Linked DNA regions of Homo sapiens: region 2 is linked to region 1. Evidence: fine-mapped expression QTL. A gene starts in region 1. The other region holds a variant in brackets. All regions are shown on one strand. Distances are between the middles of the regions. Region 1 holds the start of PRC1 (protein regulator of cytokinesis 1). Region 2 holds the start of PRC1-AS1 (PRC1 antisense RNA 1).

Region 1 (13,235 bases):
GCTCTGTCGCCCAGGCTGGAGTGCAGTGGTGCAATTTTGGCTCACTGCAACCTCTACCTTTTGCGTTCAAATGATTCTCCTGACTCAGCCTCCCGAGTAGGTGGGACTATAGGCAGGTGCTACCACACCCAGCTAATTTTTGTATTTTTAGTAGAGTTGGGGTTTCGCCATGTTAGCCAGGTGGGTCTTGAATTCCCGGCCTCAAGTGATCCGCCCTCCTCGGCCTCCCAAAGTGCTAGGATTACATATGTGAGCCACTGTGCCTTGCCATTTTATTTAATTAATTTATTTATTTTTATTTTCTTTTTTTTTTTTGAGACAGAGTCTCGCTCCGTTGCCCTGGCTGGAGTGCAGTGGTGAGATCTCAGCTCACTGCAACCTCCGCCTCCCAGGTTCAAGTGATTCTCCTGCTTCAGCCTCCCAAGTAGCTCAGATTACAGGTGTGTGCCACCACACCCAGCTAATTTTTGTATTTTTACAAAAACACAAAAATCCACCCACCTCGGCCTCCCAAAGTGCTGGGATTACAGGCATGAGCCACTGCGCCCGGGCCTAGTATTCTTAAATTGCAACCGGCAGCTCAAAGAATGGCTAAAGTTAAAAAGCCATTGAGATGGGGTTTCACTACGTTGGCCACGCTGGTCTCGAACTCCTGACCTCAAGTGATCCACCTGCCTCGGCCTCCCAAATTGCTGGGATTACAGGCGTGAGCTACCATGCCTGGCCTATTCTTCTTAAATTACAACTAGCAGCTCAAAGAATGGCTAAAGTTAAAAAGACAGCATTAAGTGTTGGTGAGTATATAGAAAAGTGAGAACTTTCATATGCTGCTGGCATGGTGTAAATTGGTACAACTATTTTAAAAACTGTTGGCAGTCTATCTACTAAAGCTGAACCCAGCAGTTCTACCTCTACATACATACCTAGCAGAAATGAACACATACGTTCACCAAAGACATATATGAGAATGGTTAGAGAAGCACTACTCATAATAGCAGGGAAACAGAAACAGCCTAGATGTCTATCAACAGAATGAATAGTACATTCCTACAATGCACTAATGCAGCAATGAAAATGAACAAACTGGCTGGGTGCAGTGGCTCACACCTGTAATTCCAGGACTCTGGGAGGCCGAGGGGAGCAGATCACTTGAGGTCAGGAGACCAGCCTGGCCAACATGGGGAAACCCTGTCTCTACTAAAAACACAAAAAATTAGCTGGGTGTGGTGGTGCGCCTGTAATCCCAGCTACTGGGGCGGCTGAGGCAGGAGAATCGCTTGAACCCGGGAGGCAGGGTTTGCAGTGAGCCAAGGTTGCAGTGAGCCAAGATTGTACCACTGTACTCCAGCTTGGGCGACAGAGCGAAACTGTCAAAAAAGAAAATGAACACACTACACATGATATGGATAAAGCTCAAATTATTATATTTCTATTTTATTTATTTATTTATTTTACTTTTTTGGGGTGATGAAATAGTTCTAGATCTTGATGGCGATTATACAACAGTATACAATTGAAACTACCTGTAAAGCGAGTCTGTTTTACTGTGTATGAATTATACCTCAAATCTTTTCATTTTTTTAATGAAGTAAAATAAACAACTAAAAAATAGTTGTAAGGGGAAGAGGAAGGAAAAAAAAAACACTTTAGGCTGAGCAAATGCCACTAGATATGCAAATGTGTATCACTATGTGATTCCGTTGACAGAGAGTTCAAAAACAGGCAAAACTGGCCAGGCACGGTAGTTCACGCCTGTATTCCTAGCACCTTGCAAGGCCGAGGCAGGAAAACTGTTTGAGCCCAGGAGTTTCAGATCATTCTGGGCAACATAGTGAGACTCTGCGTCTTAAAAAAAAAAAAAAAAAAAAAATTAGCCGGGCACGGTGACGTATGCCTATAGTCCCAGCTACTCAGGAGGCTGAGGTGGGAGGATTGCTTGAGCCTGAGAGGATGAGGCTGCAGTGAGCTATGATCACTGCACTCCAAAGCAACACCCTATCTCAAAAACGAAAACAAAAAAAGCAAAAACAAAACCAGGCCAAACTAATCAATGCTTTCAGAAGTCAGGATAGTAGTTCTTTTGGCTCAGGGGAGGCAGTGACTGGTAGAGGGCTTCTGGGTTGCTGCTTACACAGGTGCATCAACTGTGAACAATTCACTGAGTTTACACTTGATTTCTGTACGTTTCTGAATGTATGTTATTCTTCAATTACCAAAAGCTTATTTTAACAAAAAATTATTTATCTAAAATACAAATTTAACTGGCTTCTGTATCTTATCTTTTAAGAACAGCTTACTTTAAAAATTATCACAATTAGTCTGCTTTACAGAACATTTAAAGAATAGAAATTTTTCTCCCTTTTCTTAGGTATAACAGGACAACTAAGACTGCCCTGGCACCAGAGAAACTACAATCTAGATGTGCTCTGCTTCCAGTCGGCCGAGAAGCCTGCAGCAAATCACCTAAACACTTAAGGTCTTTGTGTGCCATCCACACCCAACTGCAACTAGAGACTTTCATTAGCCCCTTTCTGTCTCAGAGCTTTCGGTGGTTCTACAAGTCACCAGCCTGGATCTCTAACAATGTGTCTCTCCAAAGCTGTTAATACATTCACATCCAAAATATCTCCAGCCACGAAATCCTAGTTTAGAGGTTGCCCGTCCTTGTTGAAGAAACATTTCTACACAAATACCTGTTGCCTATACCAGATGGCCATACCAATACCCAAATACTGACAAACGTTTAAAAGAATTTACGGTACTCCCTTCACTTTAGAAATGTTAACAGTTCAAGTCCAACAGAACTTAAAGGAAAAAAAGAGAAATGTTAACAGTAAGTAAGGCATTTATTTAACATAATCTCAACTAAAGTCCAACTAAAGAGCTTCCCCAGGCAAACACTCCTTTTGCACTTCATTTTGAAGACAAAAGAATGCACAAGTTAAAATCCTAATATTACCATTTTATTAAAAATAACTTTTAAGATCCAATCTGTGGCCAATATTCGATCTGGATGCAAAACCCTGGCTTCCAGACAGGCCAGCCAGGGGCACTGCTCTGAAGGTCATTACTTAAGTATCCCAGTCTCCTCAGTCTGACAGACCTACCCCTGCCCAGCCAATCTCCACATAACAGCTAGTTGTTCATAATAAATCCCATCAGATCCCCGCTTAACTACTCCCCTTCAAAGGCTCCACTGCCCTCAGGAAATAGTTCAACCACCTTCTGTAGAAAGGCCTTCTAAAACCTCTCTCCGAGTCTGTCTGCTAATCTCTCCCACTTGACACTCCCCAGGTCTCTGGCCAGCTGAACTTCCCGGGCATTTCCTGAACAATGCCCCTCAATAAACCACATGCAACTCTCATTTTCTGATGCCACCGCGCTTTGTACATTCAGTTCCGTCTATATGCCACCACCTCCTCTGGAGAGCTGTGGACTTGTCACTCACCATTCCCCCCAAGCCCCCTAGTAGACCATAAACTCAAGGGCAAGGACCACCACATCTTATTCATCTTCATTTTACCACACCCTAACTCACAGTAGTTGTTCAATAGATATAAAATGAATGGCCCTGAATTCCTCCCAAAGGGTCCTATGCTCCTAACCTACCTAACCTAATAGAGGTATTATGCACTCTGGATCCTGACGAAGGTTTACAAGCAGGGCTGCCTATCTCTGTAACACATCTAGAAGGTAAAGTGATCGTTTTTCTGAGTAAAAAAATCTAGCACAATGGGCAAAGAATCTGAATAGACATTTCTCCAAAGAAGATATAAAAATGGCCAATAAGCACATGAAAAGATGCTCAATATTAGTCATTAGGGAAATGCAAATCAAAACCACTTCATAGCCAACAGGATGGTATAATAAAAAAAAATATATAGCAAAAAGTATTGGTGAGAATCTAGAGGAACTAGAACCCTCAGACACTGCTTGTGGGCATGCAAGACGGTACAGCCTCTTTGGAAAATAGTCTGGTAGTTCCTCAATTGATTTTTTGTTTTTTGAGACAGGGCCTCACTGTCACCTGGGCTGGAGTGCAGTGGTGTGATCATAGCTCAACGCAGCCTCAACGCCCTGGGCTCAAGCAATTCTCCTACCTTAGTCTCCCAAGTAGCTGGGACCATAGACGTGCCATCGTGCTTGGCTAATTTTTTTTTTTTTTTTTTTTTTTAAGGTTTGCCATGTTGCTCAGGCTGGTCTTGAACTCCTGGGCCCAAGCAATCCTCCCACCTCGGCCTCCCAAAGTGTTGGGATAACAGACATGAGCCACTGCACCCGGCCCCTCAGTTTAACAGAGTTCATACAACTCAGCAATTTTATTACTGGGTATTTGCCCAAAAGAAATGAAAACACATTTATACAAAAACTACACAACTGTTTATAGCAGCATTACTTATAATAGCCAAAAAGTGAAAAAAAAAATACAAATGGCCATCAACTTATGAATGGGTAAATAAAATGTAGTATATAGGCATACAATGGAATATTATTTGGCAATAAACCTTGAAAACATTATGTTAAGTCAAAGAAGCAAGTCACAAAAGACCAGAGCTACGGTTCCGTTTTTATGAAATATCCAGAATAGGTAAAAAGTAGATTTGGGGTTTGTATGGTTTTTTGAGACAGGGTCTCCCTCTTTCACCTAGGCTGGAGTGCAGTAACATGATCATGGCTCACTGCAGCCCCAACTTCCTAGGCTCAGGTGATCCTCCCACCTGAGCCTCCGGAGTAGCTGGGACTACAGATGTGAGCCACCACACCCAGCTAACTTAAACAATAAAATTTTTTTTTAGGCCGGGTGCGGTGGATCACTCCTGTAATCCCAGCACTTTGGGTGCCAAGACCGGCGGATCACGAGGTCAGGAGTTTGAGACCAGCCTGGCCAATATGGTGAAACCCCGTCTCTACTAAAAATACAAAAATTAGCTGGGTGTGGTGGTGGGCACCTGTAATCTCAGCTACTCGGGAGGCTGAGGCAGGAGAATTGCTTGAATCCGGGAGGTGGAGGTTGCAGTGACCTGAGATCACGTCACTGCACTCCAGCCTGGGTGACAGAGTGAGACTCCATCTCAAAAAATAAAATAAAATAAAATAAAAAATAAAATAAATAAATAAATAAATAAATAATTTTTTTTTTTTTTTTAAGAGGTAGAGTCTCTCTATGTTGCCCAAGCTGTTCTTGAACTCCTGGGCTCAAGTAGTCCTCCCACCTTGGGCTCCCAAAGTGCTGGAATTATAGGTGTGCGCCACCTTGCCTAGCCGAAAAGTAGATTTGTAGTTGCGGCTGGGGAGAATTTGGACCATGGGGTGAAAGGGGATTGACTGCTAATGGGATTTTAAAGGGGTGATAAAAATGTTCTAAAATTGATTGCAGTGATGATTGCACAACTCTGAATATTCTAAAAATCACTGAATTATAATATACAATTTAAGTACATTGTATGGTATGTGGATTATACCTCAAAGCTGTTATTAAAAACATCTTGGCACATAATCTAAAACATTTTTGGTTTCTTTTTTTTTTCTTTTTTTGAGACAGAGTCTCAGTCTGGCACCCAGGCCGGAGTGCAATGGTGTGATCTCAGCTCACTGCAACCTCTGCCTTCTGGGATCAAGCGATTCTCCTGCCTCAGCCTCCTGAGTAGCTGGGACTACAGGCACACGGCACCACGCCCGGCTAATTTTTGTATTTTTAGTAGAGACGGGGTTTCACCATGTTGGTCAGGCTGGTCTCAAACTCCTGACCTCGTGATCCGACCGCCTCGGCCTCCCAAAGTGCTGGGATTACAGGCGTGAGCCACTGTGCCCGGCCCATAATCTGAAATGTTTTTGATTTGTGACTTAATTGAAAAACTTACAGATTTTTACTATGGCCGGGCGCGGTGGCTCGTGTGCAATCCCAGCACTTTGGGAGGCCAAGGCGGGCGGATCACCTGAGATCAGGAGCTCGAGACCAGCCTGGCCAACATGGTGAAACCCCATCTCTACTAGAAATACAAAAATTAGCTGGGCGTGGTAGTGGGTGCCTGTAATCCCAGATACTCAGGAGGCTGAGGCAGGAGAATCACTTGAACCCGGTGAACCCAGGAGGCGGAGGTTGCAGTGAGCTGAGATCATGCCATTGCACTCCAGCCTGGGCAACAGAGCAAGACTGTCTCCAAAAAAAAAAAGAAATAAAAATTTTACTAATATATAACGTATTTTATTTGGCCTGTTGGAAATGGGTGTTTGGAATTACCAAACACCCATTATTATTATTCTAGTTAGAGACACTTCCTGTAAGAGGATCATTTTCAAATTAAAAACTAACATTTCTCACTCTTCCTAACATTCAAATTGTACTGAACTTAATTTTTTTTTTAAACTTAAATCTTGTATCATCCTTGACACTTCTTTCTTATATGCCCGCCATTAGCATTATCTACACAAGACAGGCAGAATCTCACTCCTCCTGACCTCTGCTGCTACCACTACCACCCCCACCCTGGTCCAGGTCACCACCACCAACTTCTTGCTGTATGGCAGGGGCCTCTTAACTGGTCTCCCGGCTTCGAAGCTGGCCTCCTTAAGTCCATTGTCAACACAGGAGCCCCAAGTCCTAATCTTCTACTCAGAACCCTCCAACGACTTGCCATCTCACTCTAAGGAAAAGCCTCTGACTTTCCAAAGACCTATGGAGCCCCATTCCATCTGAAAGCCATTTCTTTTGACCTCAGTGCTCATTCTATTCCTGTCACAGCGACCTCCTTGCTCTTTCTGGAACATACCAGGCGCTATCTCCCCTTAGGGCACTTGGATTTGCTGATTCCTCTACCTAGATCTCTTTTCCCCCATGCTGCATGGCTTCACCCTTTTCCTTCTTAGGTCTTTGCTCAGAGATCACCTTCTCAGGGAGGCCTTTCCTGACCCATCTCTTTAAAACCACAACCCCCCTTCCTACACCTTCAGTACTTCTTAACCTCTTGATTTCTCTACATAGCACTTACCACCATTTAAGACTAACTTATTTATTACACTCCTCTTTTGCTATTAGAATATAAACTCTGTGAGGGCAGGGATGTCACTTTTGCTCACTGCTATATCCCCAACACTTGCAATGGTTCCTTGTATATAACAAACATTCAAGAAGTATTTTTCTTTTCTTTTTTAGTATAAATTATTATTTTTTAAATAGAGACAGGGTCTTGCTATGTTGCCCAGGCTGGTCTTGAACTCCTGGGCTCAAGTCATCCTCCCACCTTGGCCTCCCAAAGTGCTGGGATTACAGGTGTGAGCCACTGTGCCAGGCCCAAGAAGTCTTTTTGAATGAATAACGTGACATTTCAAAAAAGTTGTATGATCTTAAGATGCTTCAGAGCAATCATTATGAACAATTATCATGATACACTTAAATACTCCCTGGCTAAATTGTTTCAGATAATCCCCTAAAAGCAGCAAGTCTGAGTTTTTTTTTTAGATTCACTGAAAAAAATCAAGAGTGCATACAAAGACTACCACTCAAGGACAAAAAGGTTGTAAAATGAGTCAGTTTTTCCAGTCTTGAACATAAATCACTGGACTGGAAGGTATCTCACAGTGGTCCTTAAATTATTTTCTACCTTCAGGCAGCCTTCACTGATCCACTGCCCTATTTTTTCTTAGCATTCCAGAGAAGGAGCTTTGTTGATCTCCAGTTCAACCTGTTTCGGGGATCGATAACCATAATTAATTCTGGCCAGAGTTTCGTTTGAGCCTCAGAGGTCAAAGCTGCAGTGAGCAATCTCGCCACTACACTCCAGCCTGGGCGACAGAGTGAGACCCCGTCTCAAAAAAAAAAAAAAAAAAAAAAAAAAAAAAGTTAATTATATCCATTAGCCTGGAACCAACATTAAAGGGTAAGTTTTCTCCTGCTTCATTCAATCCCTTGATAGAGGAGATGCCTACATAATTCATAAACTGTTAATGGACTTTTTTTTTTTTTTTTGAGACGTAGTCTCACTCTGTCGCCTAGGCTGGAGTGCAGTGTCGAGATGTCGGCTCATGCAACCTCTGCCTCCTAGGCTGAAGCGATTCTCCTGCCTCAGCCTCCTGAAAAGCTGGGGGTACAGGCGCGCCACCAGGGCCAGATAATTTTTGTATTTTTAGTTAAGACAAGGTTTTACCATGTTGGCACTCAATTCTCATTATTCTGAGGGCAAGCATTTTAAAAAGACTGATCAGAATTAGTGATCATGAAATGAAGAATCTTACAAAGCCTTAGAACAATCAGTTCCACCAAAAACTACACATTATTTAACGCTGTATCATCAGAAAACTGCATCCACAACTTTTAGAAAATAAAGTTAATATTTGGAAGTCACAAGGTTGGTAAGTGGCAGTGTCACCGTCTGGTCCCGATTTCAAGTCGGACAGTCCCTCCCCAACACCGCCTAGGAAGTTATTAAAACGACCGGAAAAGAATTCCATAATCCGTTTCTTAACTTGCAAAGAAACAAAGCTATCTTTCCAATTCAAACAAAACGTTAACACCGCTGGCCAGATATAAAGAAAAACAACGGGCCGGGCACGGTGGCTCACGCCTGTAATCCCAACACTTTGGGAGGCCGAGGTGGCAGGATTACTTGAAGCCAGGAGTTCGAGACCAGCCTGGCCAACATAGACCGCGTTTCCACAAAAATAAAAAAAAAGAATAAAACAAAGAAAAACAACGATAAATAAACTTAACAGCTTTAAAGAAAAGCCACGACCACAGAAGGTTTACAACGAGTCATCTGCGCCAAGCAGCGGCACCTGAGACGCTGCGGGCGGGGAGGGTGGGGTCCGAGCGCCAGCGCTGACCGCCTGGGTGGAGGCCGCCCCGGGCCCCGGGCCTCGACTACCCTGCCGCGTCCGGGCACCGGCGCTCGGCTCCCACCCGGGCGTCTGAGCCTGCGGGCACCTGCGGCCGCCGGCGGACAGCGCGTCAGGTCTCACCGCCGCGGCCCTCGCACTGGCTCGCCGCCTCCAGACCCTGCCCCTCAGCGCCCCCGGCCTCCCTCGGCGCCGACTGCCGTGACGATCTAGGCCCGGGACCCCGCACGGGTCCCGCACCCCTGAACAGGCCCCGCAGCCGAAACGAGCGTCGCTCCCTCCCGCGTCCCCTCGATTTCCCCGCAACCCGCACCTTCTCCTCATGGCGGACGCTCCAAGCAGCCGTGAGTCCAGGTCCAGACCTACTCCACACGGCCCCGAGAGCAACAACCACCCGCAAACACCGGCGATGTCACTCCGCGTAGCCGCTCCGCGAGCCGTTGAGCCCCGCAAAATTTCAAACCGCGCCACGGGGCGAAGCCTCGTCGCGATTGGCGTCGCGTCCCGTCGCTCCAAGAAAATCCCCGCCCCTCGGGCTGAAGTCGCGGGTGCGCAATCGGGGTGGGGACTCGCGAGCAGGGCCTGGGAAGCGCCGGAGTGGCGGCGGGGGATGACGTCACTGTCTGTGAGTGGCCGGGCGTGGCCTGCGCCTCCCGCTTCCCTGGCTTGGCGGCAGCCTCAAGGGACTCCTCTCCCAAGCCAGCTACCTCATCGGAGCGCCGCCCCGCCTCGCCCCGCGCAGTTTGGATTCGAAGTGCGCGGGCGGGGAGGGAGTTGAGAGCACCGCGGCTACCTGGCTTCCCTGAGTCCCGGCTGCCGGGAACGGGCGCGGGGGTGAATAGGTAAGTTAGCGCCTAGTTTCCCTCGCTCATCCAAGAAGCGAAGCTTGGAATCGATCTTTGGTGGGACTCTTCCCCAGATGTAAGAAGCCATACACTAAAGGGGAAGGGAAGGAACATTGAGTCCTGCTCATGGGCCTGGAACGTTTCAACGCCAGTTATCCCATTTAACCTCCACAATCGCCATTGCAGAGGAAACGCAAAAAGATTTGAATGATTTGCCTAAGTCACGTTATCAAATTAGATGAGTTTCTAAATCGTTACATGAAAAATTTAAAACTCAAAATAGACATTACTTTTGTAGCCTCCTTTCCTCGATGAACATGTTACATCCCTAAATGCTTATATATCACCGTTTTTTCCCAGTGATTCATGGTGGCATGGTGGCATGAATCCTGGTGTGTAGATATCTCGCCCATTCTGCTATTGATATTTAGATGATAATTTAAAAGATAAGGCTGGGCTGAATATCTTCATACATAAATCTTTGTGTATGTATGTATTTATAAATGCATCCTGCATTTTCGTACGGCTGATTCCTAGAGGTGTAATTACTGAATGCTCCCTTTATTAATTTGCCTTCTGCACAAAGCCTCACCGGAAAAGTACCCTCCTTTTGTTACCCTCAGCAGGGCTGAATTCTATTGTACTTCTAAACATCTTTGCTCATTTTGTAGGTAAAATAATAATACTGGCATTTCCTTGTTTGGCACTTGATTATAATTGAAATTGCACATTTTTCGTGTTTATTGGCCAACTGTAACTTAAGTGAATCCTCTTCATATGCCTTTTCCCTAAAGGTAAAGGATGCTTGTTTGCTTCACCTTCAGAACCATATTTTTCTTATTTTCAGAAAAACTTCATTAGTGCTTTCAATGTTCTTTTTACTTTTTTTAATTGAGACGGAGTCTCGCTCTGTCACCCAGGCTGTAGTGCAGTGGCCCAATCTCAGCTCACTGCAACCTCCGCTACCTGGGTTCAAGCAATTCTTGTGCCTCAGCTTCCCGAGTAGCTGGGACTACAGGCACGCACCACCATGCCTGGATACTTTTTTTTTTTGTATTTTTAATAGAGACGGGGTTTTGCCATGTTGGCCAGGCTGGTCTTGAACTCCTGACCTCAGGTGATCCGCCTGCCTCGGCCTCCCAAAGTGTTGGGATTACAGGCGTGAGCCAACGCGCCCGGCTTCCATGTTCTTTTTAACTTGTCAGCAGCATGCCAAACATTCACAGCACCAACACAGTGGGCGACAGGCACCACTTTTTCAATTTCCTTGCACTCTGTGATTAACATTGACACCACTAATAGAGTAGATGGTAGCACTACTTTTAAAATTTACTTGCATTCTTTGTTGATTAAATTAACAGGAGAGCTTTTCAGAAAGCTTCACAAATTTGTGATCTTCATACTTGTTCTTAGCACCAGCATTATGAAGTATCCAAAGAAAAGGCAATTTTTTCTCTCTTGTCCTTTACACTGAGGTGCTGAGGCTAACAAAGTCATAGAACTGATGCAAAGATATCCATTCAGAGCATAAACGCAGCATGTAAAACACTGTGTAATACGCGTTTATAATATATGACCTTAGCCTGGGCACTGTGGCAAAACCCTGTCTCTATAAAAAATACAAAAATTAGCCAGGTGTGGTGGTATGAGCCTGTAGTTCCAGCTACTTGGGAGGCTGAGGTGGGAGGATCACTTGAGCCCAGGAGGTCAAGGCTGCAGTGAGGCATGGTCACGCCACTGCACTCCAGCCTAGACGACAAAGCAAGACCCTTTCTCAAAAAAAAAAAAAAAAAAAAAAAAAAATCCTATTACAGGGTCATATATTTCTACTGGATGGAAGTGCAATGTTTTGCCACTGTTTAATCTTTTTCTGATGCCACCTATTCTTTCTGTGAATTAACAGCCCTGTTGGCAGTGTCTTTGGTCTTGCACACTAGCTTGACATAACACTCAAAATTCTAGCTAGATGCTTGAGGAATGCCTTTTCCTTGGAATATATTCTTATACAGAATTATCATTATTCTTATTTATTTATTTATTTTTTGAGACAGAGTCTTGCTCTGTTGCCCAGGCTGGAGTCCAGTGGCATGATCTCGGTTCACTGCAGCCTCTGCCTCCTGGGTTCAAGCGATTCTCCCACCTCAGCCTCATGAGTAGCTGGGACTACAGGTGCGCGCCTCCACAGCTGGCTAATTTTTATATTTTAGTAGAGACAGAGTTTCACCATGCTGGCCAAGCTGGTCTCAAACTCCTGACCTCAAGTGATTTGCCTGCCTCGGCCTCCCAAAGTGCTAGGATTACAGGTGTGAGCCACCGTGCGGGGCCCAGAATGATCATTATTCTATAGGAAGAATACTTTTGATGATCCAGTAACTCAGGTTTTGATTTTCTTTCTTCCTTTTAGTAAGTGGCAGCACTGTGGAATGGGGAACAGATGGAAGAATGAGCAGCTGGGAGGCACACTCTTGCAAAAACCCAGGCAAGAGACAATAAAGACCTCTGTCGTAGGGATGGTGAGGAGAAGATGAACTAGAGACATTTAGAAATAAGAACCAATAGCACAAGGGAACCAGCTGAAGGTGGGGCATAGAAAGAAAAAATCTGAGGTCAAGAATACAATTTTTTGCTCATTTGAACAAAGTTTGGGAATACAGGAAGAAGAGCAGATTAAAGGATTCAAGTAGGGACAGGAGCTTCCACTCATGAGTTTATTTTGTACATGCTGAGTTTGAAGTGCCTGTGGAATGACCAGGTAGGAAATACTTGTGTGGCGCTAAGGAGTGAGATGAAGGCTTGAGATCTGGAAGTGGATGACAACAAAGGACAGAGAGAGGGGAGATGTCAGCAAATGGGATGAGCAGAGAGGAGTAATCAAAGAACAACCTAAGAGACTGTGGGAGGACAAAGAAAGGGTATTATGGAAGCTGAATAAGACAATTTCAAGGAAAGCATAGTCATCAGTGAGATCAAGTTGGAAGAGGCCTGAAAAGAGGCCACTAATATAGGTGGTTGTAATTCCTTCTTTTTTTTTTTTTTTTTGAGACAAGGTCACAGCTTACTGCAGCCTCGACCTCCTGGGCTCAAAGGATCCTCCCACCTCAGCCTCCCCAGTAGCTAGGAATACAGGTGTGTGCCACCACCCTCGGCTAATTTTTTTATTTTTTGTAGAGACGGGGTCTTCCCATGTTATCCAGGCTGGTCTCAAACTCCGGGGTTCAAGCGTTCCTCTTGCCTCGGCCTCCAAAAGTGCAGTGATTACAGGCATGAGCCACAGCACCTGGCCTATATTTCATCATTTTTAAAAGGTAAAGAGAGAGAGAAAGGCTACTAGCATCAGTAATGAGGAGGGTGCTGGCACATTTATAGGAGCACTGTTTGCTGATGCCTGAAATGGCTCTAATGGCACACAATCTTTCATTCTGCAATAAGAAACAAACGCTTAAAATTGAAGTGCCTCCTTAAATTAAAACAACAAAGTCATTTTCTCAAAAATGTAATGAATCACAACATTTTAGAACTGGAAACGTGCTTGCTGGTCACCTCAGCCATCTCCCTCAT
Region 2 (16,404 bases), 24 kb before region 1:
TTTCTGAAATGAGGGGCTATTTGGCAGCATAAGAATGGAAGTAGAAGGTCCAGTAAGGGACTTAAAGGGTGATCTGAAGGCATTGAGGGGATGTGAACCTAAGACAAGCCCCTGGGGCCCGAGGGGAAGCGCCTTGGCCTGGAGTGCTACCTTGGGCAGGGCAGGCTTTAGTTGTCCCCAGGAGCGGATGCGATGGGGAGGAGAGTTTGGATGGATGCAGGGGCTTCACAGTCTGTTTCATGTGTCCCCTTGATCTCTTTCAGAGACTGGGGATATTTATATCTGGGGCTGGAATGAATCAGGGCAGCTGGCCCTGCCCACCAGGAACCTGGCAGAGGATGGAGAGACTGTCGCAAGGGAAGGTGAGGGTCATCTCGGCTCCCACAGCCGTCTCCCCAGGATGTGGCTGTCATTCCTAACTCCTGGCTGTATGCTGGCCTCAGAGCTACACTGCTCAGATGGAGCATGTGAGCCCCTTATGGGAGGGAGCATTGGCAAGGCTGATGCCGGTCTTGGCACAACACACTTGTGCAGCAGTGCCAGCCCTGCCTGCAGAATGTAGGGGTTGGGAGCACCAGCTTTGGAGCTAGGCAGTCGTGTACCTCAGAGCTGTTGTGGCAATAAGTGACTGCATGAATAAGATTTAGCTCAGGGCTCAGTTGGTGTTCACATCATTATTATCATTCTGAAGCCACAGAACTGAATGAAGATGGTTCTCAGGTGAAGAGAACGGGTGGGGCTGAGGATGGAGCCCCTGCCCCCTTCATAGCTGTCCAGCCCTTCCCGGCATTACTGGATCTCCCCATGGGCTCAGATGCAGTCAAGGCCAGCTGTGGATCCCGGCACACAGCTGTGGTGACACGTGAGTGGGGCTGGGAGGCACTCTGCTCCACTCGAGCTGGTGCCTACGGAAGGGGGTGTGGTCGACGGAAAAACTTCTGTCTTAAGGCTTCTGTGGCTCATACAGAGCAGCTACCTTGCTCAGTGGATAAGCCCCAACCCCCTTGTTGTTTCACAGTAGTTCCCCAGCCTGTCAGGCCCAGAAGTTTCTTCCTTCTGGTGGGAGGCTGATGCTTTCTGTCCTCCCTGCACGGCCACAGACACATTCCCTGCCCGCCGCCGCCTCTGACAGCAGGGACTGTCCAGTCTGGCATGGAAGACTGCGGCGCTCGGTAGCATGGCACACAGGAAGATCCGCCACTTTTTCCCTCGGGATCCTCTGCCATGCCACGTGTGATCAGCCAGTTGTTAAGAGAATATGTTGTTCCATGCCAGGCAGATCTCATGAGGATTGTAATATGCTAGCTGTGGGCTGTGCCAAGCTGGGCTGGACAGATGCCTTGCCAAAGAACCGTAGTGACAACTATCGATTGTCCTTTTGCTTTCAGGAACAGGGGAGCTCTACACCTGGGGCTGGGGTAAGTAAAAGGATTGTTTTTGTGACCCTGAAACCAAGGAGAAGAAAGACCTGGGAGTACAGGGCAGGTGACAAAGCCAACAAGACTGGAGGAAGCAGGGGCCTCGGCCAGGTCACTGGGAGGAACAGGACTGCTCCCTCCCTGGGGTTGGAACAGACATAGGCGCGCTCAGTCCGAGGCCAGACAGGGGAGACATGGAGAGGATATCGGTACCACCCGCCTACCTCTCTGAAAGACTGTCTTAAGGGAGTATCCAACCAGCACTTACAAAGCAGCTTTTTGTGGATGTGACACTGGGTGGAGAAAAAGATTCGATGGAAGTGTGTGCTCTGAACATCTTAGCTTGGATAGCAGGGAAGTCTGGAGGAGCGTCTTGCCTGGAGTGGCTGGTCGCCACTAGCCTCTTGGGGATCCCCAAGGTTGCCTGGCTCTGGGTCTCTTGGATTCACAGAGCAGTGGGGCATAATCCCAGCACTTCATTTGATAGTCTGGGCCCCTTCCTGGAGGGAAAGCAGCAGCAAGACCCAGTGGAGACGATGGCAAAGGGGCTGATTTCACTTTAGGTAAATATGGACAGCTGGGCCACGAGGACACCACCAGCTTGGATCGGCCTCGCCGTGTGGAATACTTTGTAGATAAGCAACTCCAAGTAAAGGCTGTCACCTGTGGGCCGTGGAACACCTACGTGTATGCTGTGGAGAAAGGGAAGAGCTGACATGTGTACGTATATGTATATGCAACACCTGTGAGACCCCCATTCAGGTCAAGGAAAACCATTGCCTGCACCCCAAGGGCCCCATATTTGCCCCTCCCCATCACAGTCCTGCCCTTCACCCTCAAGCACGGTCCTAAACTTGTCTGCACTTTAGAAACACCTGGAGAGCATTGAAAACTCTGCTGCCTAAGGTCAGCATCAATCAAAACAATGAAATCAATGAAACAATGAAACCAGAGCTTCTAGGTGTGTGGCCTGGATAGTGGTAGATTCAAAGCTCCACCCACCTCATCCCAGGTACATTTGATGTGCAGCTGAGATTGGGGCACATTCCAGGTCATCGTCTTCTGTCAGTCATTTCCCTGCTTTCGTTTGAATTTTACCATTCTTGTATGCAGCCTTATACGACATAGTTGTGTTTGCTTTTGAGTGTTAGATAAATGGAATCCTGTGTATGTGCTTTTGTGTCGTTTTTGTCACTCAGCATTGTATAATCCATCCTTGTTGGGTCCTGGAGTTCATTTTTAATGCTATATGGTGTTCTGTTGTATGAATAATACCTCAAGTGATACAGCCTTGTTGATGGTCATTTTTATTGTTTCTGATTTTGGTCATTCCACATAATTCTTTGTGCAGTCTTCTGCACATGTGCACAAGTTCCTTTGCAGAACATTGAGTTGAATTGCTAAGTCAGGAGATACCTTTAATTTTACTAGATAACTGTTGCCCCCAGCAGGGTGGGGTCTACTGTGGCTAAAATGTCAGGTAGATGCACACTGGTTTTAATTGGCATTTCCCTGGATACTGATGAGGTTGAGTAGCTTTTCATTTGTTTTGGATGGCTGGGCATGGTGGCTCACACCTGTAGTCCCAGCACTTTGGGAGGCTAAGCAGGGAGATTGCTTGAGGCGAAGAGTTCATATGTTTATTGGCCACTTGGAGTTTTTCTGTTGTCAAGTGCCTGTTCAAGTTTTCTGGCCTTTTAAAATGTTCTGTATTTTCCTTAGTGATTTTTCTTTTGGATATTTCAGATACAAGTCTTTTGAGAGTTAGTATTCAGAGTATCTTCTGCTACAATGTAGTTTGTTTCAGTCTCTCTTGGTATTACCAATTTTAATACTTAGGTGATGCTTACTCCATGCCAGGTAAGGCTCAAAGTGCTTTACAAGTATCAACTTATTTTGATAAAATAAGCTTATCAGTAGTTTTCTTTATAGTTAAATTCTATTTGTGCATGTGTGTGTCTGTGGTTTAGCAAATGTTTCCCACCCATGGGGTCTTTTTTATTGTGGTAAAATATACTGAACATAAAATTTATGTTCAATAAAAAACAAAAATTGTTTTTAACCATTTTAAGTACATAGTTCAGTGACATTATATGCATTCACTGTTGTGCAACCGTCACCCCTATGCATTTCCAGAACTTTTTCATCATTCTATGCTGAAACTCTGTGCATTAAACACTTAACTCGTCAGTCTCCCCTTCCCCAGCCCCAGGCAACCACAGTCCTAACCTTCTGTTCCTATGATACTGTAAGTGCCTCATGTAAGTGAAATCCCATAGTATTTGTCTTTTTATGACTGGCTTATCTCACTTAGCAGCATGTCCTCCAAGTTCATCCATGATGTAGCTTATGTATCTAGACTTCCTGCCTTTTAAAGGCTAAGATTCTGTTGTATGTATACACTGCGTTTTATTCATCCGTGCATTGGTGGATATCTGAGTTGTTCACTACAGTCAATAATGTTGCTGGGAACATGGGTGTACAACTCTCTTGAGTCTCTGCTTTCAGTTCTTTTGGATATATACCCAGAGTGGAATTGCTGGATTGTGTGGTAATTCTAAATTTTTTTGAGGAACTGCCCTGTTTCCCACAGAGGCTGCATCATTTTACATCCCCACTGGAAGTGCACACAAATCCTAATTTCTCCACATCCGCGTCCACACTTGTTTTCTATTTCTGGTTAACAGCCATCCTAATGGGTGTGAAGTGGTATTTCATTGTGGGTTTTTTTTTTTTTTTTTGGACAGGGTCTCTCTGTTGTCCAGGCTGGAGTACAGCCTCCACCTTCTGGGCTTAAGCCATCCTCCCGGGTAGCTGGGGCTACAGGCACGTGCCACCACATCTGGCTAGTTTTTTGTATTTTTAGTAGAGATGGGGTTGTTGCATATTGCCCAGGCTGGTCTCAAACTGCTGGGCTGAAGCGATCCACTTGCCTTAGCCTCCCAAAGTACTAGGATTATAGGCATGAGCCATCATGCCTGGCCAAGCCATTTTTTAAAATGGACAAAAGTCAACAAAGACGACAGAAGGATAGCAAGTGAGCATATGAGAAGATGCTCTACATCATTAGTCATTAGGGAGTTGTAAATGAAAACCATAGTGAGACACCACTCCATACACAGAATAACTAGAATTACATAAAGGCTGAACATACCAACTGTTGGTGAAGATGTGGAGAAACTGGAACCTTCATACATTACTGGTAGGAATGTAAAATGGTACAACTGCTTTGGAAAACAGTTTGGCATTTCTTCTTTTTTAAGATGGAGTCTTGCTCTGTTGCCCAGGCTAGAGTGCAGTGGTGCAATCTCAGCTCACTGCCACTTCCGCCTCCTGAGTTCAAGGAATTCTCCTTCCTCAGCCTCCTGAATAGCTGAGATTACAGGTGTGTGCCACCACAGCCAGCTAATTTTTGTATTTTTAGTAGAGATGGGGTTTCACCATGTTGGCCAGGCTGGTCTCGAACTCCTGACCTCGTGATCTGCCCACCTTAGCCTCCCAAAGTGCTGGGATTACAGGCGTGAGCCACCATGCCCGGCCCAGTTTGGCATTTCTTAAAAAGTTAAGTGTACACATACCATAGATGTGATCCAGCCATTTCACTCCTAGGTATTTATCCAGAAAAAAAAATATATCCATACAAAGACTTGTACATGAATGTTTATAACAGCCTTGTTTTTAATAGCCAAAAACTGGAGAAAAGCCAAATGTGAAAAATAAACCTAACAGGCGAATAAACTGGTATATCAACACCATGGAATACTAAGCAAAAAAAAAAAAAAAAAAAAAAAAAAAAAAAAAAAAGAATTATGGATATAAGCAACAATATGGGTAAATCTGAAAGTAGTGAAAGAACCAGACCAAAAAAATATATACTGTATGATTCTACTTACATCGAACTGTAGAAAACGCAAACTAATCTGTAGTAACAAATCGGTGGGCCAGGTACAGTGGCTCATGCCTGTAGTCCTAGCACTTTGGGAGGCCGAGGTGGGCGGATCATGAGGTCAGGAGATCGAGACCATCCTAGCTAATACAGTGAAACCCTGTCTGTCTGTACCAAAAATACAAAAATTTACCAGGCGTGATGGCACGTGCCTGCAGTCCCAGCTACGCGGGAGGCTGAGGCAGGAGAATCCCTTGAACCTGGGAGGCAGAGATTGCAGTGAGCTGAGATTGTGCCACTGCACTCCAGCCTGGCAAGAGCGAGACTCCATCTCAAAAAAAAAAAAAAAAAAAAAAAAAAAAATCAGTGGTTGCTCGGCAGGGTGAGGCTGGGAAGGAGGAGTGAGAAAGGGGTGGGAAGAACTGCTGGGGTAGAGAGACTTGGTTAACTGGACTGTGGCGATGGTTTTTCTCTTACGCTTCACATGTGTGCAGTTTATGTCCATCCTCCTTCAGTAACGCTGTTGAAGTTGGGCAGCCTCCCCATATTGAGACAAACGGCATTGAAGCCAGAAGCATCCTAGGACTCCCTTTGCTCTCTACACATCAGGGGTTAGGTTTTATATTTCTCACCAAAAAATTAGAGTAAGAGATATTCTTAATTTAGAAATGTACCAGAGAATATTTTAAAAATCACACTCGGCCGGGTGCTGTGGCTCATGCCTGTCATCCCAGCACTTTGGGAGGCAGGCAGATCATCTGAGGTCAGGAGTTCAAGACCAGCCTGGCCAACATGGTGAAAGCCTGTCTCTACTAAAAATACAAAAATTAGCCAGGTGTGATGGTGCGTGCCTGTAATCCCAGCAAATCGGGAGGCTGAGGCAGGAGAATCGCTTGAACCTGGGAGGTGGAAGTTGCACTGAACCAAGATAGTGCCACTGTACTCCAGCCTGGGCGACAGAGTGAGACTCAAAAAAAAAAATCACACTCCTGACTAAAAATTTCCAGGAGGTCCTTTTAGTTTTTTGTGTTTGTTTTTCACACACAGACCAACCAACTAAAAAGTGACTGGGGAAAAAAAGGAAACACCACACTATATCTTTTTGAAATGTAAGTATACAGATTTTAATTTATTTTTAAGAATAATTGTATATTTTAAAAACAGGACACGTACTGTATGAGTAAACAGCGTGGCTAACACCAAGTCCACACTGGTAAGCTTTTGAGAACCATTTACACTATGTTGACAGTAGTACTGCTGCAGGCAGACAGCGGAAGAATAAATAATAGTGCTTCAAGAAGAGTAGTGATTGAGAGGATAGGTAAAGAGGGCGCCTCATCGTGGAAGCTAGAGCAGGAACACCTCCCCAGTAGTGACATGTGCAAAGTTCCAGATCTCCACGACAAAGACAGCTCAACCCATTGGAACAAACAGACTCCCAATGTGGCTGGCAACTGCGGGGGTAGAAGAACTCAGGCAAAGTAGGCACAGGAATGGGGGAGATGAGAGCCAAGGGACAAACGCCGAGAAAGCGTTCCGACAAGCATGTGTGTTCATACATGCATACCCCCAACAAAGGGCAATGCACTGTGTAACAGAACTGAACACAATTTAACAAAGCTGCTCCCAGCCTTCCTGTCACCTCTTTGGCAGTAGGGCAGGCCATCTCAACTTCGGACACACAAAG[A/T]CATTCTCTTCAGGAGGAAGGCTGTCCTGTGTGGTGGGGACAAGGCTTCAGGTAAGAGCAAAGCTATGATAGCTACAGCATTAATTGAACATGCCTAAACAAAAAAGATGTTAATTACTAGTTACAGGTATACATGCCAAAATTACCCCCAGGGATGGGCATAGTCAATCATTTTCCTACAGTGGTGAAATAAAACAAGCTTTGATCATGCTTCAGCAAGTAGAATTATGTGGTAGAGAAGTCAGGCCCCATATGCTAAAATTTGCACTTCTTGCCATAAACTTTTCATGTATATAAGTCAAAACCAAGTCTCCTAGGACCACTAAACCTATGATGGGCTTTCAACTGTAACACTCATTCACATCTTTAAGTTAGGCCCATGGTCATGGAACCTGGCCAAGGTTTCAAGCACGCCTAAGCTGAAGAAAAACTAAAGTCACCCCCATATAATTAGGTCCAGTCTAGGCACAGGAAGCCACAGCTGGTTGACTGATCAGGGCTTCTCAGGACTGGATGTTGGTTGAATTGAGGATTCCAGAAGTAGCATCAGATTTGGAAGCCTTTGAAAGTTCTCGCTGTTGAAAAATAAATAACATCAGTGGCCATACTGCCTCTCTTACACATGGCCCACCCTTCTAAGTTTGGTTAAGTGTCAGCAAAAGGTCCCTTGAAGGTAGTTTCTCTGAGATCCCTAGCCTGCAATAGGCTGCGTTAGGAGTAAAAGGTGAGGAACTCTGAGCACCATTCTATTAGTCACAGACAGAGTGCATGTGCACGCATGCCCGTGACCCCTTTTTCCTCAGCCAGTCCATTCTGTTACACCTCACAGAAGAGAAATCCTTCATACAGTCATGCACTGCATAATGATGTTTCAGTTAACGACAGGCCACATACACTATGGTGGTCCCATAAGATTATACCATATTTTTACTGTACCTTTTCTATGTTTAGATACACAAATACTTACCATTGCGTTACAATTGCCTACAGTATCCCAGGAATAGCCTGAATCAAAAAAACCCACAATTGCCTACAGTATTCTTTCTGTAACATGCTGCCCAGGTTTGTAGCCTAGGAGGAAAACGCCATACCATATAGTTTAGGTGTGTAGGCTGTTCTGTCTAGGACTGTTAAGTACACTCTGATATGTGCACAATGAAATTGCCCCACATTCTCAGAACATATCCCTGTCATTAAGCGAGGCATGACTCTACTTCACAGAGCTACTTTAGAGTTGTCAAGGTAAGTAGGCAACAAGCTTTGGTCTCTTGAGCCCTTTATAAAACAATGGGCCAGAACATATATCTACCAATCCCTGGGGCTGAGGCCTTGTAACCTGCTGGTGATTTGATCTCATGCTGGAGCACATGGTAGAGCAGCAAAAGATAAAGCATGAATGGCTATTGAGAAAGACAGATATTAGCAGAGGTTAGTTTACCGGCTTTGGTGCTGCCTGGTGGAGTCTATCAGCCATAGCAACCCAAACCAGACGAACCTACCTAGGACTAGCCACACAGATAGGCAGGTACATTTAAGCCTCAGATAAAATGGGCCTTGGTTGAACAAGCGAAAAAGAGAAAGCTGGACCTCTGTCCAGCAATCAGCCAGAGTGACACACACCCACTTTTAAAGGTAGAAGCACCACCAGCCACGTAATTTGAAAAACATGCTGGAGTAGGAAGCCAGTTTCAGTGATCAAAACTAGCTGCAGCCTTGGCCAACTGTTCCATTCTCTATCCCTGCAGCAATTAAGAGGGGAGGCAGGCTAGGGGTTTAACTCAATATCCCCTCAAGGGTGAGGAACATCCTCTCCTCTTGCTAGTAAAATATTGAGAGAAGAAATCACAGATTAAGTAAAAGGCAGTGTAGTTAGGTGTTAGCAAATATAGAGTAGGATACTAGGAAGTGAAGAGCATTCTGGAAAAACTTGCTTCCAGTGCTTCATCTATGCTTCAGTAGCTCAATGTATGGAAAGAGGCAAAGGTGAGGAAATCAGCATTAGCTAGCTGAGAATAGAGCTGGCGGTTAAGCCCTGAGGGGTTAGGAAGGCATATACTCCAGGAAATAATCAGCACACAGGCCAAGAGCCTCATTGTAGGCAGCACACAGCTGGGGCTCCCTTCCCCATGTGATTGGGGGCCTCTATTCTTTCCAGCTATTGCAGGCCTTTGATGTCACAATTGGGGAGGGTCAAGGTTTTCTGTTAAACGTGATTTAAAACTGTGCCTGACTTTAGGGGCTGAGAATCCAATTCAAGTCTGAACAAATTTTATTAATTAATCTGTTGTGAATGTAAATCAGATGTGTTTTTTTGAGTCCATGATAGGAATTCCTGCTTCCTTTGTAACACTGCTGAGATTATTAGTTAGTGTAGCCCTGTGCCCAGATGAATGAAGCCAGCAGATGACAGATCAGTTTGGAAAAGGGACATGCAGGGATTGCCATACAGACCTGAAGCCCAACAGTGGAACTGTCAGAGAGGGACGGATCCTTCTAAGAACAAAGAATTAAGACAATTACCAAGAACTCCACCAAGAGAGCACCAGGACAGTGATAGAGGGGTTGCCTCCTGCAGCCAGGGAATGGTATGTATTAAGCAGAAGGATCCAGGTTAAATGTCTAGTTGCTGCTGCCAACTTCCTTCCTACACAACCCCCCCTTAAATCACACCCACCCTGCCATGGTCAAAGCAGGAAAGGGATTCTCAGCCTCCAAGGTAGCTGCCCTAGCTAATAGCCTGGGTGCCCCTGGGAAGATACCCACTCTGCCCCAACTGTGTGCTCCCCAGAGACTGGTAGATATTAGAAAAGGTGAATTACCGCAAACTCAGAATAGGTGCTGGCAACAGAATTAATGCTGAAGTTGCGCTGGAGGGGGGCCGAGCCAGGGTACCCACCACTCAGGATGCTGCCGTTGAGCTCCAGGTTCTCCTTGTTGGCTCCATGCCTGCCAGTACGGGGTGTTTTCTTCCCTGAACAGGTGGAAGCAGCGACTGGCTGCAGAGAAAGGAAAGAGATCCATGTATCATCCTTCTAATGAACGTGCACACGCACACACAATACCTGCACTGGTCAAAGGCTGAGACTATCTTTATATTCATGTCTATAATCCTATACTTTTTAGTTAAAAAAAAAACATATATATATATATATATATATATATATATATATATATGGGGCTGGGTGTGGCTCATGCCTATAATCCCAACACTTTGGGAGGCCAAGGCAGGAGGATTGCTTGAGGCGACATGTTCGAGACCAGCCTGGGCAACATAGCAAAACACTGTCTCTAGAAAAAAATTTTTTTTAAATATGAATTCTTGATTTACAGAACACCTATCTTGAGCATAGTCTAATAAAATATTTGAAAGACTGAATGTGTTTTGCCACATACTTTCCACATCTCTACTGAGTACCTGGCATGTCTAGTGATCTGGTTTCACTGGGCTAGAACCCACATGTAGGGGACCTATCTCCATACCAGCTGAGGACTGGGCTTGGAATTGAGTCTACAGCGACCCTGCCTGATCTTCAGTTTCCCAGACACATCCCAGTGCTTCCCATGGTACCAGTGGGGCTCAGAGTGACTGTTCTCTTTTTTTGCACGTTAGTTTTGGACCATTATTTAATGGTGAGCTAGCTTATATCTGTCAACTCTCAGCATCTCAATAAGAACCAAATCCAGGGATCTTAGAATCTAGAACAAGTAGGTGGGGCCTCTGGGTGAACAGGCTAGGGACGCATGTGAGGATGTGCTTAGACACAGGGCATACTAACCTTGCTGCCAGAAGGAGGAAGTCGAGACACGGGGGAGTGGTAGACTGTCCCTCCAAAGATAGGCCGAATGCTACTATTGGCCGTAGCATTGGACATGGTGGTAGTGTTCAGCTAGGGAGAAGAGCACGTGGGTAACTGATGTGCAGTAACATCCTCAGCATTTCTAGCAACCTGTCTACCCTACAGAGAAATGACTATGGGAGGAGGCAGTCTAGGGAAGACGGGTTTACATGGTGAAGGGCCTGCTGTGTCTAATACTGCATAGATTTGAAGTAACTTGTGAAAAATTTTCAAAGCCTATTGCTATCCAGCAAATGGAAGTGTACAATGGTACAACCACTGTGGCACAAGACATCTAGCATATGACCCAGCCATTCCACTCTTAGATGTTTCTACCCAAACGAAATGAAAGCATAGATCCATACAAAGACTTAGACGTAAATGTTCACAACAGCTCCCTGCAGCAGCCAAAAGCTGGCAACAGCCAAATACCCATCAGCAGGTAAGTGGACAAGCAAACTGTGGTAAATTCATACAGTGGAATGAATATTGATCTACAATAAAAAGGAGTGACCTTTTGATACATACAGCAACAGAGATGAATCTACACTAAATGAAAGAAGCCAGACAAAAAAGAATATGTACTGCGGGATTCTATGTAAAATGTTTCAAAATGAAAACTAATCTATAGTTAGTTAAAGACTAAATCCCTACTCGCCACAGCTAGAGGCTGGGGGCAAACTAGGAGCCAGGGAAGGAGGGAGGTAATACAAAGAGGCACTAGGAAACTTTGGGGACCATGAAATGTTCATTATCTAAATTATGGTGACAGTTTCATTGTATAAACCTACATATGTCAAAACTTATTATATGCTAATGATAAGAGCTGTAAATGTTTTTGAGATGGGGTCTCACTCTGTCACCCAGGCTGGAGTACAGTGGTACAATCTTGGTTCACTGCAGCCTCGACCTCCTGGGCTCAAGCAATCCTCCCACCCCAGCCTCCTGAGTAGCTGGGACCACAGGCGTGTGCCACCACAACCAGCTAATTTTTGTATTTGTAGTAGAGATGGGGCTTCAACATGTTTCCTAGTCTCCCAACTCCTGAGTTCAAGCAATCCCCCTACCTTGGCTTCCCGAAGTAGTGGGATTACAGGCTTGAGCCACTGTACCCAGCCAACACTTTTTTTTTTTTTTTTTAATTAAAAAAATTCTAGGGGGCCGGGCACGGTGGCTCATCTGAGGTCGGGAGTATGAGACCAGCCTGACCAACATGGAGAAACCCCGTCTCTACTAAAAATACAAAATTAGGTGTGGTAGCACATGCCTGTAATCCCAGCTACTCGGGAGGTGGAGGTTCACGCCTGTAATCCCAGCACTTTGGGAGGCTGGGGCGGGCAGATCTTCTGAGGTCAAGAGATTGAGACCATCCTGGCCAACAAAGTGAAACCCCATCTCTACTAAAAATACAAAAATTAGGTGGGCATAGTGGCGCGGGCCTGTAGTCCCAGCTACTCAGGAGGCTGAGGCACGAGAATCACTTGAACCCAGGAGGTGTAGGTTGCAGTGAGCTGAGATTGCGCCACTGCACTCCAGCCTGGGCAACAGAGCGAGACTCCGTCTCAAAAAAACAAAACCAAAAAAAACACATTTTAGGCCAGGCACAGTGGCTCATGCCTGTAATCCCAGCACTTTGGGAGGCTGAGGCAGGAGGATCACTTGAGCTCAGGAGTTTGAGACCAGCCTGGACAACTTAGTGAGACCTCATCTCTACTGAAACTCAAAAAAAAAAAAAAAAAAACACCACCAACAAAAAAAAAAACCCCAAAATTAGCCGGGTATGGTGGCATGTGCCCGTAAGTCTCAGCTACATGGGAGGCTGAGGTTAGAGAATCACTTGAGCCCAGGAGGCTGAGCTGCAGTGAGCCATGATGGCGCCACTGCACTCCGGTGTGGGTGATAGAGCAAGACACTGTCTAAAAATAATAAATTTAATGTTATAAAATAGCAGTAGAGAGAAGAAATAATACTCTTTTATTTATCAAAAAGAAAAAAGTAGGCCAGGCACAGTGGCTCACGCCTGTAATCCCAGCACTTTGGAAGTCAAGGTGGGTGGATCACCTGAGGTCAGGAATTCAAGACCCTAGCCAACATGGAGAAACCCTGTCTCTACTAAAAATACAATATTAGCCGGGTGTGGTGGCACATGCCTGTAATCCCAGCTACTTGGGAGGCTGAGGCAGGAGAATTGCTTGAAACCAGGAGGCAGAGGCTGTAGTGAGCTGAGATCACCCATTGCACTCCAGCCTAGGCAACAAGAGCGAAACTCCATCTCAAAAAAAAAAAAAGTCCTCTCTGACTGTGCTGTAGAGATGAAGAATTATTACATCTTCCATTTAGTAAGCGTGAACGTTGTTTTTCACATGGTACCACAAGGCCATCTCTTGGTCTTACAGGGAAAATGGCATTACAGGTTTTCAGGAAAACTGCTGAAGCTTTCTTTTCATCGTTACCAGAATGTTGGCAATCATTCCCCCACCGCACCCCGAATTTAATGCAAGGACGCAACAAGCACAGACACCAAAGCTGGCCACTCCGTGACTGTCACTATAGGCCGCTACTCAGCCTTCCATCCACTCAAGTGGACTCGACATGCAGGGACAGAAAAACCCTTTCCCATCTCTGCAGGACAGAGGGCAAGAGGTAGGGAAAAGAAAGATCAGAGTGTTACTGTGTCTATGTAGAAAAGGAAGACATAAACTCCATTTTGATCTGTACTAAGAAAAATTGTTTTGCCTTGAGATGCTGTTAATCTGCAACTTTAGCCCCAACCCTGTGCTCACAGAAACATGTGCTGTATGGAATCAAGGTTCAAGGGATCTAGGGCTGTGCAGCATGTGCCTTGTTAACAATATGTTTACAGGCAGTATGCTCGGTAAAAGTCATCTGCATTCTCCATTCTCGATTAACCAGGGGCACGATGCACTGCGGAAAGCCGCAGGGACCTCTGCCCAAGAAAGCCTGGGTATTGTCCAGGTATTTCCCCGCACTGAGACAGCCTGAGATATGGCCTCGTGGGAAGGGAAAGACCTGACCATCCCCCAGCCCGACACCCGTCGTCTGTGCTCAGGAGGATTCGTAAAAGAGGAAGGCCTCCGTCTCCTGCATGCCCCTGGGAACGGAATATCTCGGTGTAAAACCCGATCGTACGTACCTATGTTCGTTCTATTCTTAGATAGGAGAAAACTGCCCTGTGGCTGGAGGCGAGATACGCTGGCGGCAATGCTGCTCTGTTACTCTTTACTACACTGAGATGTTTGGGTGGGGAGAAGCATAAATCTGGCCTACGTGCACATCTAGGCACAGTACCTTCCCTTGAACTTATTTGTGACACAGATTCCTTTGCTCACGTTTTCCTGCTGACCTTCTCCCCACTATCACCCTGTCCTCCTGCCGCATTCCCCTTGCCAAGATAGTGAAAATAGTAATCAATAAATACTGAGGGAACTCAAGAGACCGGTGCTGGTGCAGGTCCTCTGTATGCTGAGTGCTGGTCCCCTGGGCCCACTGTTCTTTCTCTATACTTTGTGTCTTATTTCTTTTCTCTGTCTCTTGTCCCACCTGATGAGAAATACCCACAGGTGTGGAGGGGCTGGCCCCCTTCAAAGAGGTGGCTGGGACTACCCTCACCCACTCCCTTGAAATCAGTGTTTCCCTAAGCCTTGTGTTTACCTTACGTGCTTTGCCCGGTGTATTGGGAGCCAGTCCTCGCCGCTTGCTAGGTGTTCGAGGAGCGCTGCCATACAGCATCTCTGTCTCTGTCTGTTTTTTGTTCTTCAGTTGCTGTGTGAAAGTCAGAAGCAACAGTGATAAATCTCAGGAAGAGAGCGGGTCTGGGATGGCAACAGCAGCAGGGCCGGGAATCTAGGCCCGTGTCTCTACAGCCAGAGCTAAAGAGCTGCCGCGGGCTCCCCGTTCCACAAGCCCCGGTCCCCGGCTCCCCGTTCCACAAGCCCCGGTCCCCGGCTCCCCGTTCCACAAGCCCCGGTCCCCGGCTTCCCGTTCCACAAGCCCCGGTCCCCGGCTCCCTGTTCCACAAACCCTGGTCCCCGGCAGAGACTATGGGCTGCTCAGATTACTTTCTTCGTCTTTTCCCAATTTGCGTTCACGTTCACACTTACTCTTTCCTGCTTGGCTCTCTCTTTCTCCAATCGATGCATCTCCCATTGTTCTGCCACATACTCCATGAATTTCTGCCCATTCACCATAAATGCCTTTGAATGTTCCTGTTCCCACAATTCAATTCGTGCCTTCAACTCTTCTTCCAGCTGAGACCAGAAACAAGGACATGTTAATTACTTCAACTCTTTAGTGCAAAGCCCAAATGAAATGATTTCCCTAGAGAGTGACTCCTCCTCCCCAGAGCATCATTAGCCTCATTTCAGGTAGCTGGGCCCACATGGGTACAGGTCAGAGTGACCAGAAATCAAAGCCCGGAGACATTTCATTCACACAACACACAAGAGTGGAAAATGGCAAGAACCCAAAGTTTGACCACTAAGGTTTTGGTGCCTGAAGTTGGAGGCAGCACAGGGAAGATCAGCAATATGAAATAGGCGGTGAACATTAGGAGCAGGACTCTGAAATCAGACTTAATGGGGTTCAATCTGGAATCACCCTCTTTACTGGCTGTGAAGCAGTGAGCAAATTTACATTTTTTTTGAGACAGTCTCACTCTGTCGCCCAGGCTAGAGTGCAGTGGCACGATCTCAGCTCACTGCAACCTCCACCTCCCGGGTTCAAGCGATTCTTGTGCCTCAGCCTCCCGAGTAGCTGGGATTACAGGCATACGCCACACCTGGTTAATTTTTGTATTTTTTAGTAGAGATGGGGTTTCGTCATGTTGGCCAGGCTGGTCTCGAACTGCCTCGGCCTCCCAAAGCCCTGGGATTACAGGAGTGAGACACCACGCCCGGCCAGATTTACCTAATTTCTTAGTACCTCAGTTTCCTCGTCTGTAAAAATGGAAAGAATACCGACCTCATAAGGATGTTGTAAGGATTAGACGAATCACTAAATGAGAGCGTTTTGAAATGATATCCCTGACTTAACTCAAAAAATGGTATTATTATTATCAAAGTGGAAAATGGTAATGGAGCCCACAGGACTCTCTCTCAAAAGCTTTCCTCATGTAACTGACTGAATTGTGTTTCCCCCAAATTCAAATGTTGAAGCCTTAACCCCCAGTACCTCAGAATGTGACTGTATTTGGAGACAGCGTCTTTAAAAAGAGAATTAAGGCCAGGTATGGTGGCTCATTCCTGTAACCCTAGCATTCCTGAGACCGAGATGGGAGGAATGCTTGAGGCCAGGAGTCCAAGACCAGCCTGGTCAACACAGCGAGACCCCATCTCTTGCGGGGGGAAAAAAGAAAGAATTAAGTTAAAATGAGGTCATTAGGTGGGCCCTAATCTCATACGACTGGGAGTGTTTAGGCCACACATATTGTGGGAAAACCATGTGAACACACGGAGAAGACGACAACCATTTACAAAGCCAAGGAGAAAGGCCTCAGAAGAAACCAACTCTGCCAACGACATGTTGATCTCAGATTTACAGCTTCTAGAGTTGTGAGAA

The links.
Region 2: its variant is fine-mapped to the expression of PRC1 in lung (TOPMed, PIP 0.98).

The regions. Positions count from the first base shown.
Region 1 is chr15:90,985,262-90,998,496 of GRCh38, forward strand. PRC1 (protein regulator of cytokinesis 1) reads right to left here and starts at 9,274. Exons shown (of 15, transcript NM_003981.4): 1 at 9,146-9,274. The coding sequence starts at 9,156. LOC124903556 (a long non-coding RNA gene) reads left to right here and starts at 9,518. Exons shown (of 2, transcript XR_007064759.1): 1 at 9,518-9,674; 2 at 12,082-12,364. It overlaps PRC1-AS1 (PRC1 antisense RNA 1), which reads left to right. Exons shown (of 4, transcript NR_051984.1): 4 at 2,369-3,363. It also overlaps a transcript of VPS33B not described here. RefSeq lists enhancers at 8,580-9,447, 9,448-10,314 and a silencer at 8,811-9,030.
Region 2 is chr15:90,959,637-90,976,040 of GRCh38, forward strand. RCCD1 (RCC1 domain containing 1) reads left to right here. Exons shown (of 8, transcript NM_001017919.2): 5 at 264-362; 6 at 692-862; 7 at 1,389-1,418; 8 at 1,982-3,489. The coding sequence ends at 2,133. It overlaps PRC1 (protein regulator of cytokinesis 1), which reads right to left. Exons shown (of 15, transcript NM_003981.4): 10 at 14,949-15,095; 11 at 14,500-14,610; 12 at 10,768-10,878; 13 at 9,811-9,987; 14 at 9,443-9,484; 15 at 6,404-7,566. The coding sequence ends at 7,495. It overlaps PRC1-AS1 (PRC1 antisense RNA 1), which reads left to right and starts at 6,733. Exons shown (of 4, transcript NR_051984.1): 1 at 6,733-7,042. The variant A/T (reference allele first, on the strand shown) is at 6,992.